Linked DNA regions of Homo sapiens: regions 1, 2, 3 and 5 are each reported to be linked to region 4. Evidence: microRNA targets listed by miRTarBase, many of them from high-throughput screens and not tested one by one. Region 4 holds a microRNA gene; each other region holds the end of a gene's coding sequence. Distances are from middle to middle.

Region 1 (3,000 bases), 7.8 Mb from region 4:
TGGGGGGTGGCAGTCCAGTAGCAGGCACCAGCAGCTGCTGAGTTTCCACTGGAACCACTTGGTTCTGTGGTTGGTCATTTTTCCTGGCTTCTGCCTATGTGGCATCCCAGCTTAGCTCCTCTTAGACATTTTGTAAGCTAATTAATAGTATGGAGCAAATCTAAGGTAGATTCTTCAGTCTACTGCTGATCACTGACACGGAATGAGGAACCAGAAGTGGGTTACTGAGTGTGACAGAACCTTAAAACACTGGCACTGTTTAGTGGAAGTGACTGAGAATACGGTGGTGAAGAATCAGATACGGCAAGGTGAAAAGTAGATGGGCGAAACGAGGTGGCCACAGCCCTTCCGAACTCAAGTTGGCTCCATATGTTCTCATTCTAGCACGGGGCTGAAGGCGCAGCCACTTTCTGGAGCTTGCTGTTCTCTCGCCGAAGGCAGAAACATAACCATCAGCTGAGCATGAGAACTGAGAGGGATGCTTTGGAAGTTACAGAAGAGAGAAAGTATAAAGTAGTGGCCTAGGAAAGCAGGGGAGTTAAGTGGACTCCAAAAATTGTAGTATGACCATCAGGAAACGTTAAGGGCCTCCATGAAGTTACTGGTCATGAATTTAAAGTGACAGTTCAGCCTGGTAATATGCTTTCTCCTGATCATTTTTGGTGCAGGAACAGAGAAGGCAAAGAACTGCATTTAGTCAGAGATGAGGTTTTGCCAAGCGAGCATGACAAAGCAAGAGAAGGGCAAGGGAGTTAATGGAGACTGTAAGGCATTATTTTAAGAATTAACCATAGAGTTTATGCTGGGTAAAGGAGGAGGGGTGGGCATTTTCTGTTTGAAGCATATCTCTCAAAGTATGGTCCATGCTAAAGATCTGGCCATCACCACAGATAGCCAAAATCAGAATTTGTGCAAGAGAGAAAACTCTTCTTTTTACAAGCACACTATGTAATTCAGACACATGGTAAAGTTTAAAAACCAAGAATGTAAAGGTTTTGCTATTAATTGCTATAGAGAAACATCTAGATAGCAACATCAGCAAAAAAAAAAAAAAAATGTATGGACCCTTCCATCAAAGCTTAGGACTTACTGTTTACATTAATGCCAATAAATGCATAATTCAAGTTCTTTTTCCAGTAACTACTTCACACAGTCCTCTGAATAGTTGTAAAGGATCCTCATCAAGGCCACTTCCAAGAGCAACCCCAAATTCCACTTCACTAACCTACCTAGCCACTGACCCACTACACAGCTCCCTTTATTTCTTAAAAAAAAAAATTTTGGAAGCTTATTCAGATTCCCCTCGAGTTGGCTTTACACCATTATTTTTATTTCTTTAGTAATTAAATTCATATTTATAATTCATAAATATGAAATAAAATATAGAAGCCAGTGCTCACAAAGAAAAAAAAACAGAATGCTCATCAAGAAAAATCTGCACAACAGATTCAACAAAGATGAATGCCTTTGTGTATATTTACTTACGAAATAAAAGTTAAAAGAAACATCTAGCTATCAAGAGCAAAACTAAAGAAAAAAAAACTTCACGTTTAAAGACATGATTACTCTCACTGCCATCAACATACTTTTTTTTTTTACTGTTTATTTCACATTATCTTTTTCACAGATGTATGAGATTCTCAAAGATCTGTGCCAAGGGCAACATAACTTCAACTGTATTAATACCCCACCTAGCCATGGGCCCACTAAACAATCTCCATTAATCTCTACAGTCCATTGTTGGAAGCTTATTCCAATTCTCTACCAGTAGCCACAGGTCTTGTATGTTTCTCCCAGGCTGCTTATCTCTAATCATAATGGCCTAATACAGGGATATCCTCTTTTCCAAACTTTCCTAACACCAAAGTGTTCTACCACCAGCAACCCCACGATGCAGATACAGCCACTGTTGTTCAAGCCTGAAAGGGACCAATGCAAAGGTTAAGTATTTCCATTTTCTACCCAGAAGAGATTATGTAAACACGGTCTTTAAATGTATATAGATTATAATGGAGTTTATGTTGAAACAGCTGTTAACACATGTAAGGTGATGAAAAAAATACAAATGAAACTCAAATTAGGTTGGAGGCTGGGCACAGTGGCTCACTCCTGTAATCCCAGCACTTTGGGGGGCCAAGGCAGGCGGATCACTTGAGGTCAGGTGTTTGAGACCAGCCTGGCCAAGATGGCGAAACCCCATCTCTTCTAAAAATACAGAAATTAGCTGGGCGTGGTGAGGCGTGCCTGTAATCCCAGCTATTCGAGAGTCTGAAGGAGGAGAATCGCTTGAACCCAGGAGGGGGAGGTTGCAGTGAGCCAAGATCACACCACCGCACTCTAGCCTGGGTGACAGAGCAAGACCCTTTCTCAAAAAAATATATAAAATTAGGCTGGAGATTTGCTAGGCATAAGAGCCGTAAGACTGCCAAGATAAAGCTCATGAGGAGTGAGAAGAAGGGGTGAGAATAACTGGGGAAGGTTTCACAGTGGGAGTAAGACCCTGGAAGACACGCACTATTTGGGCAGATGAAGAAGGTATTCCAGATGTAGGCAGCAGCATGAAAAAATTCCCAGAGGTAGGAATGAGCACAGCATGTGGAAAGGTCAGTGAAGGCACAGCTACGGCTGAAGCAGAACAGGATCCCTGGAGAAGAACAGGAGGTATGGCTGGAGAGGAGCACTGGGGACTGACCAGGGATGGCCCAAGGACCTTGACTGGCTTCTTCTCCACAGGGTGCAATTTCTGATGCTGAACAAAACTTCCATACCATTTGAAGGCTTTCCCACACACCTTACATTCATAAGGCTTCTCCCCAGTGTGAACTCTCTGATGCTGAATGGAGGCTATTTTCTGGGTGAAGGCTTTGCCACACTCCTTACATTGATAAGGTTTCTCCCCAGTATGAATTCTCTGATGGACAATAAAAAGTGACCTACAACCGAAAGCTTTCCAACATTCCTTACATTTATAGAGTTTCTCTCCCGTGTGTAATCTCTGAT
Region 2 (3,000 bases), not on the chromosome of region 4:
ATTACCCAGCTGACTTAGCCTGATAATCTGTATTTCTCTTTTCTTTCTTTTACAAAATTATATAGAACTGCTATGATCTTCTGGTCAGAAAGAAAAGACTTATTGTTCTCTTCAGCCACTGGTTACTTCATGCCTATGGAATAATCTCCATTTCCAGAGTGGATAAACTTGAGCAAGATTTGCCCCTTTTGGCTTTGGTACCTACACCAGCCCTTTTTTACTTGTTCACTGCAAAATTTACCGAACCTTCAAGGATACTCTCAGAAGGAGCCAATGGACACTGAGTGTAGACATGTGAAATGCCAAAAACCTGAGAAGTGCTCCTAATAAAAAAGTAAATCAATCTTAACAGTGTATGAGAACTATTCTATCATATATGGGAACAAGATTGTCAGTATATCTTAATGTTTGGGTTTGTCTTTGTTTTGTTTATGGTTAGACTTACAGACTTGGAAAATGCAAAACTCTGTAATACTCTGTTACACAGGGTAATATTATCTGCTACACTGGAAGGCCGCTAGGAAGCCCTTGCTTCTCTCAACAGTTCAGCTGTTCTTTAGGGCAAAATCATGTTTCTGTGTACCTAGCAATGTGTTCCCATTTTATTAAGAAAAGCTTTAACACGTGTAATCTGCAGTCCTTAACAGTGGCGTAATTGTACTTACCTGTTGTGTTTCAGTTTGTTTTTCACCTATAATGAATTGTAAAAACAAACATACTTGTGGGGTCTGATAGCAAACATAGAAATGATGTATATTGTTTTTTGTTATCTATTTATTTTCATCAATACAGTATTTTGATGTATTGCAAAAATAGATAATAATTTATATAACAGGTTTTCTGTTTATAGATTGGTTCAAGATTTGTTTGGATTATTGTTCCTGTAAAGAAAACAATAATAAAAAGCTTACCTACATAAAATTTCAATGTTTTGACACTTAATTGTTGTTTGGCACAATAGTATGGAAGTAATTCAAACTGGTAAATAGTTTCCTCTCATATCTCGGGTATATATACATACCATATTTTATTGATCCAGAGATACTTATTTCACTTTGTGACATCTCTGAATTAGGATGCATCTTACAACTGATGGCTTATTAGATTTAATGAAATACAGAAGATACACAGAATAAAAAGGGTTTTCCTGTGGTTGGTTTGTGGTTTGTGATAGGTGTTCTGTGATGTTTATGCTTTGAAGGCCTTAAGACTCATGGTTGCAACCATGGAAGCAAAATGAAATTTTTAGCTCTTAACCTAACAACCTGACCATGTTTATCCATTTTTATTGTTTAGAAGTTTATTTACTGATACTTGGTGGAGGTTGTGTGAATTAGTTAAATTTTAAATGTTTAAGACTTCTATTAACAGCTGCAAAATATGAAAGTAAGTGCACTCACTTTTCCTGTAGTAGTCTGTCTTTTGAATTCACAGCAGTTGTATCCTTGAGTTACTTTGTTAATGTATTTTTCTCAGTACATTTAACCACTGGGAAATGAACCCTTGTACGAATGTGTTTCTTCTTCTCTGTAGGAATAAAAAATAAATATAAAAATTTTATTTGTATTGCACACATTTGGGGGGTTATTAGTGTTCATTAAAATTCTGAGTTGCCCAAAGAATCCTCAATTGAGTAATTGTATAATCGGGGTAGAGTAGGGAGGGGTGTCATGTGTCTGATTACTAGGACTATATCTTCTGGTCCACTTGGGGCCATTTTTACAATCATTTTTTTCATATGTCCTGTTCTAGCAGAAAAGTATATATGCAAAAGAAGAAATTACAATTACAAGGCCTCACGGGCAAATAATTTCCACAATACTTAATATGTATCTGCATTTTTAATTTGCTTTGGTAAAAATAAGACTAGAACAACTTATAGCCACTGTAGTTGCTAATTTTACTAAATAATTTGTTAAAACGTGGTCATAAGAAATTTAAAAATCAACCCTTGTCTTTGTTAAGTTTTGACTTAGGCCCTTGTAGCACATCACAATCCTTATCACTACAGTGTATGGTACTTTTGCTAACCAGTCCTGAAGAGGTAATTTAAAAGTCAAAATACAGGTTGAATATCTCATATTCAAAAATGCTTGAGACCAGAAGTGTTTCGAATTTCGGGTATTTTCAGATTTTGGAATATTTGCATTATACTTACAGTTCAGTATCCGTAATCCTAAAATCTGAAATCTTAAATTCTCAAAGAGGATTTTCTTTGAGCGTCATATTGGTGCTGAAAAAGCTTTGAGTTTTGGAGCACTTTGGATTTTTGGATTTTCAGACCAGGGATACTAAATCTGTGTTTTCTTGATTAATTTGGGTCAGTTAGTTGATAAATTTAATAACTACCTTGTTATATATTTGTCTAAAACTATTAGTTTGCGAGACTATTGCACATTGAAGCCATCTGGAGAGATTTAAAAAAATAATGCCTGGGCCCCACACCCAGAGATTCATGTTGAATTGGTCTGTGTTTGAGCACAGGGATTTTTTTTTTTTTTTCTTTTTTTTTTTTTGAGACAGTGTCTCGCTCTGTCACCCAGGCTGAAAGTGCAGTGATGCGATCTCGGCTCACTGCAACCTCCACCTCCTGGGTTCAAGTGATTCTCATGCCTCAGCCTCCCAAGCAGCTGGGATTATAGGTGCCCGCCATGACACCCAGCTAATTTTTGTATTTGTAGTAGAAATGGGGTTTCACCCTGTTGGTCAGGCTGGTCTTGCACTCCTGACCTCAAGTGATCTGCTCACCTCAGCCTCCCAAAGTACTGGGATTAGAGGCATGGGCCACCACACCCAGCTGAGCACAGGGGTTTTTTAAAATCTCCAGGTGATTCTAATGTTTGAGAACCACTGATCTAAACTCCTCCTATTTCAGATCTTAATTTTTCCAAGAGACAAGTACTAGGCAAATGATTTTCTTTCTTCTCACTGAAATTTTGATTCTGCTTTAATTATAAGGAGGTGTTTTTCTAGACTTAATCAAAATGTAGATGATTGTAT
Region 3 (3,000 bases), not on the chromosome of region 4:
TGACAAATGGAACCTGATTAAACTAAAGAGCTTCTACACAGCAAAAGAAACTATCATCAGAGTGATCGGGCAACCTACAGAACGGGAGAAAATTTTTGCAATCTATCCATCTGACAAAGGGAAAATATCCAGAATCTACAAGGGACTTAAATAAATTTACAAGAAAAACACAACCCCATCAAAAAGTGGGTGAAGGATACGAACAGACACTTCTCAAAAGAAGACATTTATGCGGCCAACAAATATATGAAAAAAAACTCATCATCACTGGTCATTAGAGAAATGCAAATCAAAACCACAATGAAATACCATCTCACGCCAGTTAGAATGCTAATCATTAAAAAGTCAAGAAACAACAGATGCTGAGAGGATGTGGAGAAATAGGAATGCTTTTACACTGTTGGTGGGAGTATAAATTAGTTCAACCATTGTGGAAGACAGTGTGGCAATTCCTCGAGGATCTAGAACCAGAAATACCATTTAACCCAGCAATCCCATTACTGGGTATACCCTAAGGATTATAAATCATTCTACTATAAAGACACATGCACACATATGTTCATTGCAGCACTATTCACAATAGCGAAGACTTGGAACCAACTCAAATGGCCATCAATGATAGACTGGATAAAGAAAATGTGGCACATATATACCATGGAATACTATGCAGCCATAAAAAAGAATGAGTTCATGTCCTTTGCAGGGACATGGATGAAGCTGGAAACCATCATTCTCAGCAAACTAACAGAGGAACAGAAAATCAAACACTGCATGTTCTTACCCATAAGTGAGAGTTGAACAATGAGAACATATGAACACAGGGAGGGGAACATCACACACCAGGTCCTTTTGGGTAGTTGGGGATAAGAGGAGGGTGAGCATTAGGAGAAATACCTGATGTAGATGACGGGTTGATGGGTGCAGCAATCCACCACGGCACATGTATACCTATGTAACAAACCTGCATGTTCTGCACGTGTATCCAAGAACTTAAAGTATAAATATATATATATTTATACTTTATATATATTATACTTTATATATATTTATATAAATATATTAAAATATAAATATATAAATATATAAATATAAATATATATAAAGTATATATATTTATATATATTTTTATATATGTATATGAATCCACTTATGCATGAGTTTTAAGGTTTTGAGAACTCTTCCATCTATGAGGATTAGTTACAGTAGGAAGATTTGCTAAAGCAGTATGTAGCCACTCAATTAAGGGAGATAACATGAGTAATGTAGCACAATACATGGTACATGGTAAGTACATGATAAATATCAGTAGTTACTGGTATTGGTAGGTGTTGATGTTGGAGTTCCACATATTATTGTTTACGTCTACCATCCGAAGTGTTTATCTAAGTTTGTTTATTTCATTCAAACTTGTTTAATTGGAGGCAATAATTATGTCACTCTTTTTGTTGACTATGTATACAAATCTACACTATTTTGTCAACTTATAAATAATGATTGTGGCATCAACAATTGAAAACTAGGTAAGTCCAACAGGGCTAAGTGTAACTTTAGGTTTTTCACAGTGGGTAAGAAAGGTCCATAGATTTGAGATAAAGATGTCAAGAGATGGAGCACATATTTCTTATATCTCTAATCCCCAAAAAGATCTTGGGGTTATTTATTTACTATGGAAACATAGTAATATAATATCTAAGCTCTTATATTAGGGGAAGTTCTCATTTAAAAAGTAAGAGATTATGATAACATTAAAGAAAGAAACATTCTTAAAAAGTGTGAATTAGGGCCCATGAGTGGGTAAGGAAATCAATATAATGAGTTTCCAACATTTCTTATGAGATAAAATAGAATAGTACCTATTAGAGCACAGGCAAATAATTGTAAAAACTTTTATTTTTGCTATTTAGACTATTTTATCAAATAGAAGATGGTAACTGTTTATTTGAGATGCATGCTAATTTCATAGATGGTAACGAGAAAGATGGCCAATGGTGACTGTAAGAAACTATTGATCGAAAATTGAAAGATGGGTCCTCTTTCAAAGATGTTAAAATATGATAAAATATCTTAGAATCAATAATATTTCTCATATATTCACATAAATACTGGTTTCTGATATTACAGATCAGCAGGAGCAATGTGGATTGTACCCAAAAAAATTTGAAAGCCACTATCATATATATATGATATATATATATATATATACACACACACACACACACATATATATATATATATATATATATATATATATATATATATATATATATCAGACTACAATGCTTCAAAGAAACTCCTTGGTAAATTGAAGCTAAAGTAATATTTCTAAATTTGACACAATAATTGCACATACATTATGAAGTTGTCAGTTAAATCAGAAATTAAACCAACATAAAACATTTCAATGACCATGAAATGTGACAGCTTATAGAGACTGTATAGATAATACTTGAACCAACACAGTTTTGGTCCCCCAAACACAAAGCACCTAGGCAGCCCTGTGGACTCCTTAGTGCCACAGACTCTGAAAAATTATATCAGATTTTCTGTAAGGTATATTATTTATTGTTAGTTACATGTGGTCAATGGTGACATACTTTCAATAATTAAAAATCGAATAATACTGAAATAACCACAGCAGCTTTCAGTATAATTTGCTTAAGTTGTTCTAGAAAACACTGCTAATTTTTTGTTTCTGCAGAGTCAAGTATAGAAGTGAGCAGATTGGTAAATTTATAAACATCATGGAAAGAATTATAGAGAGGAACTGGAGCCACTCGAATGCCATTTGGATTCCGCTTGTCACACTGTGGGGAAAAAATAAAGCCACAATAATGTTAGCATTATTCACACGTTGAAAATCTACATTCCAGATAAACTTATGTAAAGCACTTTCATAATGATTTCCCTAAAAATTAATATATATGCAAAATTTTTTTACTTTAAAACATGGTGTTTTTCTGTTTTATGAAACTTTTCTCTTGATAATAATTTAAGAAATAA
Region 4 (4,759 bases):
ATACAGAAGGCCTTGCAGCCAGTGTAAGGCTTTCTGCATGCTCAGAAAAGACCAGAGAAAGTCCCAACATCTCATCTCTAACTAATCTTGTGGGTCTGTGCAAACATCCAGTGACCACTAAAGTGTAGCTTTAAACTGCCTGGTTGAGTAGAGACATGCCTCAGTGCACACACAAAGTTTTTGTTGTCAAAGACTGGGAGATTTATTGGTTCCAGCCATTTAAGGAAATTTTTTTCCAATCATTAGCTGATAATAAGATAATGAGTAGGACCAGATCAATGGCCATACATGACAAAAAATGCATACTTTACAGGATTATTTCAGAAGTCACTAAACTAACACATGGCAACAACAACAAATAACAGCAACAAACCTTGGATAGAGGTGAGAATCTGATTTCCAGAGTTGCCACATTATATTATTCAAAATATTCAATTTTCAACAAAATAGTCATGGCACGTACAAAGGAAAAGAAAGTATGGCTCGCATATAGGATAAAAGTCAGTCAATGGAATCTGTCACTGAGGAAGCCCAGATGTTGGACTTACAAGACATTTTAAATCAGCTATTTTACTTATGTTTAAAGAACTGGGCCGGGTGTGGTGGCTCACTCCTGTAATCCTAACACTTTGGGAGGCTGAGGCAGGTGGATCACTTGTGGTCAGGAGTTCAAGACCAGCCTGACCAACATGGTGAAATCCTGTCTTTACTAAAACTACAAAAATTAGTGGGGCTTGATGGCACAAGCCTGTAATCCCAGCTACTTGGGAGGCTGAGATAGGATAGTTGCTTGAATCCAGGAGGCAGAGGTTGCAGTGAGCCGAGATCATGCCACTGCACTCCAGCCTGGGTAACAGAGTAAGACTCCATCTCAAAAAAAAAAAAAAAAAAAAAAAAGAACTGAAGGAAACTGTATGTAAAGAACAAAGAACTAAAGGCAAGTATGAGAATGATGTCTCACCAAATAGCGAATATCAATAAAGAGACAGAAAAAATTTTCCAAGAACCTGAATAAAAATTCTAAAGTTGAAAATTACAATGACCTAGAATGAAAAATTCCCTGGAGGGGCTCATATAAGATTTGAGCAGACAGAAGAAAGAGTCAAATGTGCTTGAAGATAGACCAATGAATAGTAACCAGTTTGAGGAAAAGAAAGAAAAATAATTATGAAGAAAAAAGAACAAAATGGGTTAAAATGCCTCACATAACCAATAAGATAAAACTCAATTCAAATTGGGAAAAAAATGAATATAGCCACAGAGAAGTGTGGGACACTGTCAAGGGCATCAACATATACATAAAGGGAATCCCTCAAGGAGAGGAGAATACTTGGAAAAATAATGGCTGAAATTCCCCAAGTTTGATGAAAAACTTCATCCAGTAAGTTCAAAAAACTTACAATAGGATGCATTCTAATAGAGCCACACATAGACAAATCATTATAAAATTGCCAAAAGACAAAGGCAAAGAGAGAATCCAAAAAGCAGAAAGGGAGAAGTGAATATCACATGTAAATGATCCTCATACTGCTTCTAGCCTCCATGAATTCTGATGAATTCATGTGATTCCTCCATCAGGAGTCATGGAAGCTGGAAGCAGTGGGATGACAGTCAAAATGCTGAAAGAAAATGAGAGGTGGCCAGGCACGGTGGCTCACACCTATAATCCCAGCACTTTGGGAGGTGGAGGAGGGTGGACTGCTTGAGCTCAGGAGTTCAAGACCAGCCTGGGCAACATGGTGAAAACCTGTCTCTACCAAAAATACAAAAACAAATTTAGCTGAACATGGTGGGGTGTGCCTGTAGTCCTAGCTACTCAGAAGGCTGAGGTGGGAGGATCACTTGAGCCCAGGAGGTCGAGGCTGCAGTGAGCCACAATCATGCCACTGCACTCCAACCTGGGTGACAGAGTGAGACCTGGTCTCATAAATAAATGAATAAATAAAAGAAAAATAAAAAAAGAAAATGACAGTCAACCAAGAATTCTATGCCCACCAAACTATTCTTCAGAAAGAAAGGTGAAATTAAGATATGTCTAGATAAAGAAGAATTGAGGCAATTTGTTGCTAGCAGACCTACAAAATACTAAATAGTCCTTCAGGCTAAAATGAAAGGATCATAAGCAGAAACTTGAATTCATGTGAAGAAATAAAGAGCCAGTTAAAGTAACTATATAGGAAAATAATAGACAGTATAAACATATTTTTGTTTGTAAATCTTTCTCTCCTAAGAGGCAACTGCATAAAACAATTATAAATCTGTGTGAATGGGTGTACAATGAATAAAGCTGTAATTTGTATAACAAAAACAGTTCAAAGAAGGATGGGGAGAATGGAGCTATTTAAGAACAGCATTTTTTGGCTGGGTGTAGTGGCTCATGCCTGTAATCCCAGCACTTTGGGAGGCCGAGGCAGGCTGATCACCTGAGGTTAGGAGTTTGAGACCAGCCTGGCCAACATGGTGAAACCCCATCTCTACAAAAATACAAAAATTAGCTAGGTGTGTTGGTGTGCGCCTGTAATCCCAGCTACTCGGGAAGCTGAGGCAGGAGAATCACTTGAACCCAGGAGGCAGAGGTTGCAGTGAGCCGAGACCACAGTATTGCACTCCAGCATGCGCAACAAAAGTGAAACTACATCTCAAAAAATAAAAAAAAAGGAGCATTTATTTATTTATTTATTTATTTGAGACGGAGTCTCACTTTGTCACCCAGGCTGGAGTGCAGTGGCGCGATCTTGGCTCACTGCAAGCTCCACCTCTCAGGTTCATGCCATTCTCCTGCCTGAGCCTCCTGAGTAGCTGGGACTACAGGCACCCGCCACCACGTCTGGCTAATTTTTTGTATTTTTAGTAGAGATGGGGTTTCACCATGTTAGCCAGGATGGTCTCTATCTCCTGACCTCCTGATCTGCCCGTCTCAAAAGAACTTTGCTCTGTTGCCCAGGCTAGAGTGCAGTGGCACGATCATGGCTCACTGCAGCCTTGAACTCCTGGGCTCAAGCAATCATCCTGACTTCCAAGTAGCTAGGACTACAGGCAGGTGCCACCATGCCTGGCTAATTTTTTAATTTTTTTTTGTAGAGTCAGGGTCTCGCTATGTTGCTCATGTCTCAAATCCCTAGGCTCAAGCAATCCTTCTGCCTCAGCTTCCCAAAGTGTTGGGATTACAGGCTTGAGCCACCCCTCCAGGCAAAAATATTTTTTAAAATTTTTGTAATTAAGTTGGTATTAATCCAAATTAGATTGGTATAAATTAGAATTTAACTTGTAATATCCAGTGCAACTGCTAAGAGAATAATTTCTTTTTTTTTGAGACGGAGTCTTGCTTTATCTCCCAGGCTGGAGTGCAGTGATGCAATCTCAGCTCACTGCAACCTCCGCCTCCTGGGTTCGAGGGATTCTTCTGCCTCATCCTCCTGAGTAGCTGGGATTACAGGCATGCACCACCACACCCGGCTAATTTTTGTATTTTTAGTAGAGACGGGATTTCATCATATTGGCCAGGCTGGTCTCGAACTCCTGACCTCAGGTGATCCGCCCACCTCGGCCTCCCAAAGTGCTGGGATTACAGGCGTGAGCCACTGCGCCCAGCTAGAATAATTTCTAAGATACACTGAAAGGGAGCTCTTTAGAGGCCATCTCTCAGATGTCTCCTGGTTCCAGCATCGTTTGACTCTGTCATGCTGCGCATTCCCCAGATGATGCTTTCTGATTGTCAGGTGTCAGCGTCTGTGCCAGTGATTGAGGCTGACACCAAAGTTGTTTACCTTACAACTCTCGTATGGGTTCTAGTGTAAGCTTTAGTGTTTATTCAGCCAAGAATACAAGAAAGTCCGATCCTGCCCAGCCAAATATCTCTCATCCTGATCAAGAAGATTCTTATTCCTTCTCTGGAGGAGAAGCTAAGAAGAGGAAGGGGAGAGAGACTTAATTCTGATCTACTCTTGTGTTTTTGCTTTTCTCTCTTAAGATAGCACTCAACTTGTAAGCCTTAGTTAGACAAGGGTGTGGCTTTTCTCCTTAAAGGAGAAGGCAGATGTCAGAGAATCCTCCTAACTGTATACGGAGTTTCCTTCATACAAACCCCTGCTCCTCACTATTCCCCTTGGGCTAAACAATTGGGCGTTTCACTTGTGTGTTACTCAAAGCTTCTAACATGTGATGGGTGCAGAGACTAAACCACATACTAAGTTGAAAGCAAAAGAAAGTTGTTTTGGAAAATAATATCCATTTTAGGACCAATAAACTATTAGCTGGGAAGATTCTTCACCCAGCTTCCTCTTCCTCTTCTTTTTGTTCTTTGTTTCTGTTCTTTGGCCTGAGGGGGCATGAGGATGACCTTCATGTAGGGTCACATGATCTACATGCTATGGCTGCTTGTTTCTGAGTGCCTCCACTTGAGGCTTGTCCAGGTCACACACAGTGCCCTCACCTTAGTGGATTTCTGTTTCTGCATTGTCTGAATAGGATCACATGTACCTTTTGAGGTCACAGAAAGGAATGGAAGAAAGGGAGGAACAAATACTGGAGGAATGTCTGGAGAGAAGGTCTCATTGGATGATGTAGGAAGTGGGCTGAGGTCATCACCCTCTTTTGACCACTCTTAACCTCTTGACTTGAAAGAAAGGGAGAACAAAATTAGGACTTACAGAATTTTGGAGCACAGATGGCAGTCACTACTGTAGGTAACCTGGTCACTGCCACAAATAGGTTCACTGGGCTTGATGTAGGATAAAAACCAGCACTTATTTACATTCTT
Region 5 (3,000 bases), not on the chromosome of region 4:
CAACAGATGGTTATATGGTTTGTCCAACTCATACAGATATTAACTGGTGGAATTAGTATTCTAACACTAACAGAATGACTCCAGACTATTTGGCCTGTTAATGAAATTTCCTTTTCCCACAGAAACGAAATACCACCTTAATAATATACCAAATCCCCACAAATACATAGGTTTTTTGTTTGTTTGTTTTTGAGACAGAGTTTCACTCTGTCGCCCAGGCTGGAGTGCAGTGGCGTGATCTCGGCTCGTTGCAACCTCTGCCTCCCGGGTTCAAGCGATTCTCCTGCCTCAGCCTCCCAAGTAGCTGGGACTACAGGCTTGCACCACCACGCCCAGTTAATTTTGGAATTTTTAGTAGAGGTGGGGTTTCACCATGTTGGCCAGGCTGGTTTCAAACTCCTGACCTCAAGTGATCTGCCCACCTCAGTCTCCCAAAGTGCTGGGATTATACATAGGTTAATGGATTTTCTATGGTGTACTGTTTCCTATGCTTCATCTTCCATTCCTAATTTACTGGGGAGGCACCTATTCATTTTTAAGATTAGCTCAAACCACATGACCACTGGCCTTTCCTCCCTCTCCATCCCAACCAGTAGAAAAAAATCATTCCACCTTTATGTGCCCATGACATGCCTCTGAAACTTTTACCCTAGCACTGCTATTTTACGGCATTTATTCATTTACATGTTTTTCTTTCCCACCATAATGAGTGTCTTGAGGGCAGGACCATCTCTTATTAAGCACCTAGTATACATTTAATAAATGTTTATTGAGTAAGTCAGTATAAAACAATGACCGCCAAATTATGTGAGCAATCATCAGAATATCTGATTTCTAAAAAGACGCAACAAAAATTTTTTATTGTAAATTGACAATTTATAATTGTATAAATGTATGGGTTACAAAGTGATATCATAAATTGTGGATACAATATGGAATAGTTAAATCAAGCTAGTTAACATATGCAATACTTCAAATACATTTCTGTGATGAGAACATCAATTTTGAAATGTATAATACCCCATTATTAAGTATAGGCACCACACTGTACAACAGAACTCAAAAAAAGCATAAAACATATTCTTCCTGTCTGAGATTTTATACCCTTTGACCATCATTAATTTTTTTTTTTTTTTGAGACAGTCTCACTCTGTCACCCAGGCTGGAATGCAGTGGCGCAATCTCAGCTCACTGCAACCTCCACCTCCTGGGTTCAAGAGGTTCTCCTGCCTCAGCCTCCCCAGTGGCTGGGATTACAGGCACGTGACACCATACCCAGCTAATTTTTTTTGTATTTTTAGTAGAGGTGGGGTTTTGCCATGTTGTCCAGGCTCATCTCCAACTCCTGACCTCAGGTGATCCACCCACCTTGGCCTCCCAAAGTGCTGGGATTACAGGAATGAGCCACCATGCCTGGCCTAGTTTTTATGAGACAAAATATCAATTTCAAAACAGCATCAGTGGCAAAACAGCATCAGTGGCTGGACGTGGTGGCACGCACCTATAGTCCCAGCTACTCCGCAGGCTGAGGCAGGAGAATCGCTTGAACCTGGGAGGCGGAGGTTGCAATGAGCCGAGATTGCGCCACTGCACTCCAGCCTGGTGACAGAGCGAGACTCCGTCTCAAAACAAACAAATAAACAAACAAACAACAAAAAAGCAGCATCAGAAAGTGAGCAGGCCAGGCACAGTGGCTCATGTCTGTAATTCCAGCACTTTGGGAGGCCGAGGCATACTTTTCTGTATTAAAAATACAAAAGTATTTGTCTCTACTAAAAATATCCACCCCCCCCGCCCAAAAAAGAAAAATTAGTTGAGCATGGTGGTGTGTACCTGTAATCCCAGCTACTCGGGAGGCTGAGGCAGGAGAATCACTTGAAGGATGGGAGGCAGGGGTTGCAGTGAGCCCAGATCACGCCACTGCACTCCAGCCTGGTGACAGAGCAAAACTTCATCTCAAGAAAAAAAAAAAAAAGAGTGAGCATATTGAACTACCCTCAGCTCATAGTAAGGCAAATAGGTCAACAGAATAATAATTCATGCTATTGCATTGGAAAAGCAATTAAAAGAAATTTAAAAATGTGTAAGCAGAAATTCAGTTGCATGTAAGAAAATCCAATTCCCCGTGAGAAAGAGAAAGAGCTGGAGTCCTTTAAAAATTAACTGCCTGTTTTTCTGTGGCTAGTGAGCCTTATCTCTCCTCCTTTCCCAGGCATTGTAAATACCCTGTTTCTCTAGCTGTGCAGCTGCAAGGTAACTAGACAGATAAACTCAAGTCGTAAAACATGATTTTCCTTGAAAAGTAAGAAATGATGTAATGCATGTCTCAGTTAATTGAATAACTGTCTTTCTTGCTTCTGTAATATGCTTCCCCCTGCACAGATTCCCCCCAACCCCCGCGGCCCCACAAAATGCTTAAAAGGTAACTTAACTCTGTTCAGGGTTCAGTCCTTTGGATGTTAATCTGACTGGGCTGGTGCACCTAAATAATAAATATCTCCCTGAACTCCATCAGTCTCTCTGATTCCTTAAAAATCCCGCTACATTTTGTGTAATGAACTGGCAACAAGAGAAAGTTGGTCGAAGAAAGGCAGAGGAACTGTGTCTTGTAAGAATTAGAATCGAGGGGCTCCATAATCATCTGGCATCCGTTCAATGTTGTATCTGATCAGGACAAAAAATCAACACCGGTAAGAAAGATGGGAAGAGAACCCATCTAAAAACCCATCCTTTATAGACTGCAATACTCTCACCCCCACTGTGAATCCTTTTTGTCAGTGGAAACAATTTAGGGGAACATCATAATGAATGATTTACAGCAAAATGCTGACTATAATACAATATGATTGTTTTTTCAAAGTCACAAAGTCAGCAAGAGGGGAACTGAGGAGCTGAGATCAGTAAGTCCAACTTCTTAGTCCACAGACTTCCCACCACATTGTGCTCTCCTCAAGCTGAAAAGCTGGAAAATAAGTCTGAGTACTGACAAAAAATAGCCAA

The links. Region 4 holds the annotated microRNA hsa-miR-2115-3p (CAUCAGAAUUCAUGGAGGCUAG, at 1,534-1,555, opposite strand). A microRNA usually pairs through its seed, bases 2 to 8, with sites in the 3' UTR of a target mRNA and lowers its output. Matches are read on the target gene's strand: a 7mer-m8 pairs with bases 2 to 8, a 7mer-A1 pairs with bases 2 to 7 and ends in A, and an 8mer does both.
Region 1: miRTarBase lists ZNF621 as a target of hsa-miR-2115-3p. Seed matches in the 3' UTR shown: 7mer-m8 at 900-906.
Region 2: miRTarBase lists JKAMP as a target of hsa-miR-2115-3p. Seed matches in the 3' UTR shown: 7mer-A1 at 728-734.
Region 3: the mRNA of KYNU is a reported target of hsa-miR-2115-3p. Seed matches in the 3' UTR shown: 7mer-A1 at 2,533-2,539, 7mer-m8 at 2,371-2,377 and 7mer-A1 at 2,265-2,271.
Region 5: miRTarBase lists FCF1 as a target of hsa-miR-2115-3p. Seed matches in the 3' UTR shown: 7mer-m8 at 1,665-1,671 and 7mer-m8 at 818-824.

The regions. Positions count from the first base shown.
Region 1 is chr3:40,532,528-40,535,527 of GRCh38, reverse strand. It overlaps ZNF621 (zinc finger protein 621), which reads right to left. Exons shown (of 5, transcript NM_198484.5): 5 at 1-3,000. The coding sequence ends at 2,438. Among named protein-coding and RNA genes, the nearest start is that of ZNF621, 9.1 kb to the right of the region's middle.
Region 2 is chr14:59,503,789-59,506,788 of GRCh38, forward strand. JKAMP (JNK1/MAPK8 associated membrane protein) reads left to right here. Exons shown (of 7, transcript NM_016475.5): 7 at 66-1,622. The coding sequence ends at 284. CCDC175 (coiled-coil domain containing 175) reads right to left here. Exons shown (of 20, transcript NM_001164399.2): 20 at 1,279-1,527. The coding sequence ends at 1,451. It also overlaps a transcript of L3HYPDH not described here. Among named protein-coding and RNA genes, the nearest start is that of JKAMP, 21 kb to the left of the region's middle.
Region 3 is chr2:143,041,851-143,044,850 of GRCh38, reverse strand. KYNU (kynureninase) reads right to left here. Exons shown (of 14, transcript NM_003937.3): 14 at 1-2,804. The coding sequence ends at 2,679. Among named protein-coding and RNA genes, the nearest start is that of ARHGAP15, 86 kb to the left of the region's middle.
Region 4 is chr3:48,314,848-48,319,606 of GRCh38, forward strand. It overlaps MIR2115 (microRNA 2115), which reads right to left and starts at 1,612; the gene lies at 1,513-1,612. SPINK8 (serine peptidase inhibitor Kazal type 8 (putative)) reads right to left here. Exons shown (of 8, transcript NM_001080525.3): 6 at 4,650-4,759.
Region 5 is chr14:74,734,546-74,737,545 of GRCh38, reverse strand. FCF1 (FCF1 rRNA-processing protein) reads right to left here. Exons shown (of 8, transcript NM_015962.5): 8 at 1-2,664. The coding sequence ends at 2,616. Among named protein-coding and RNA genes, the nearest start is that of FCF1, 23 kb to the right of the region's middle.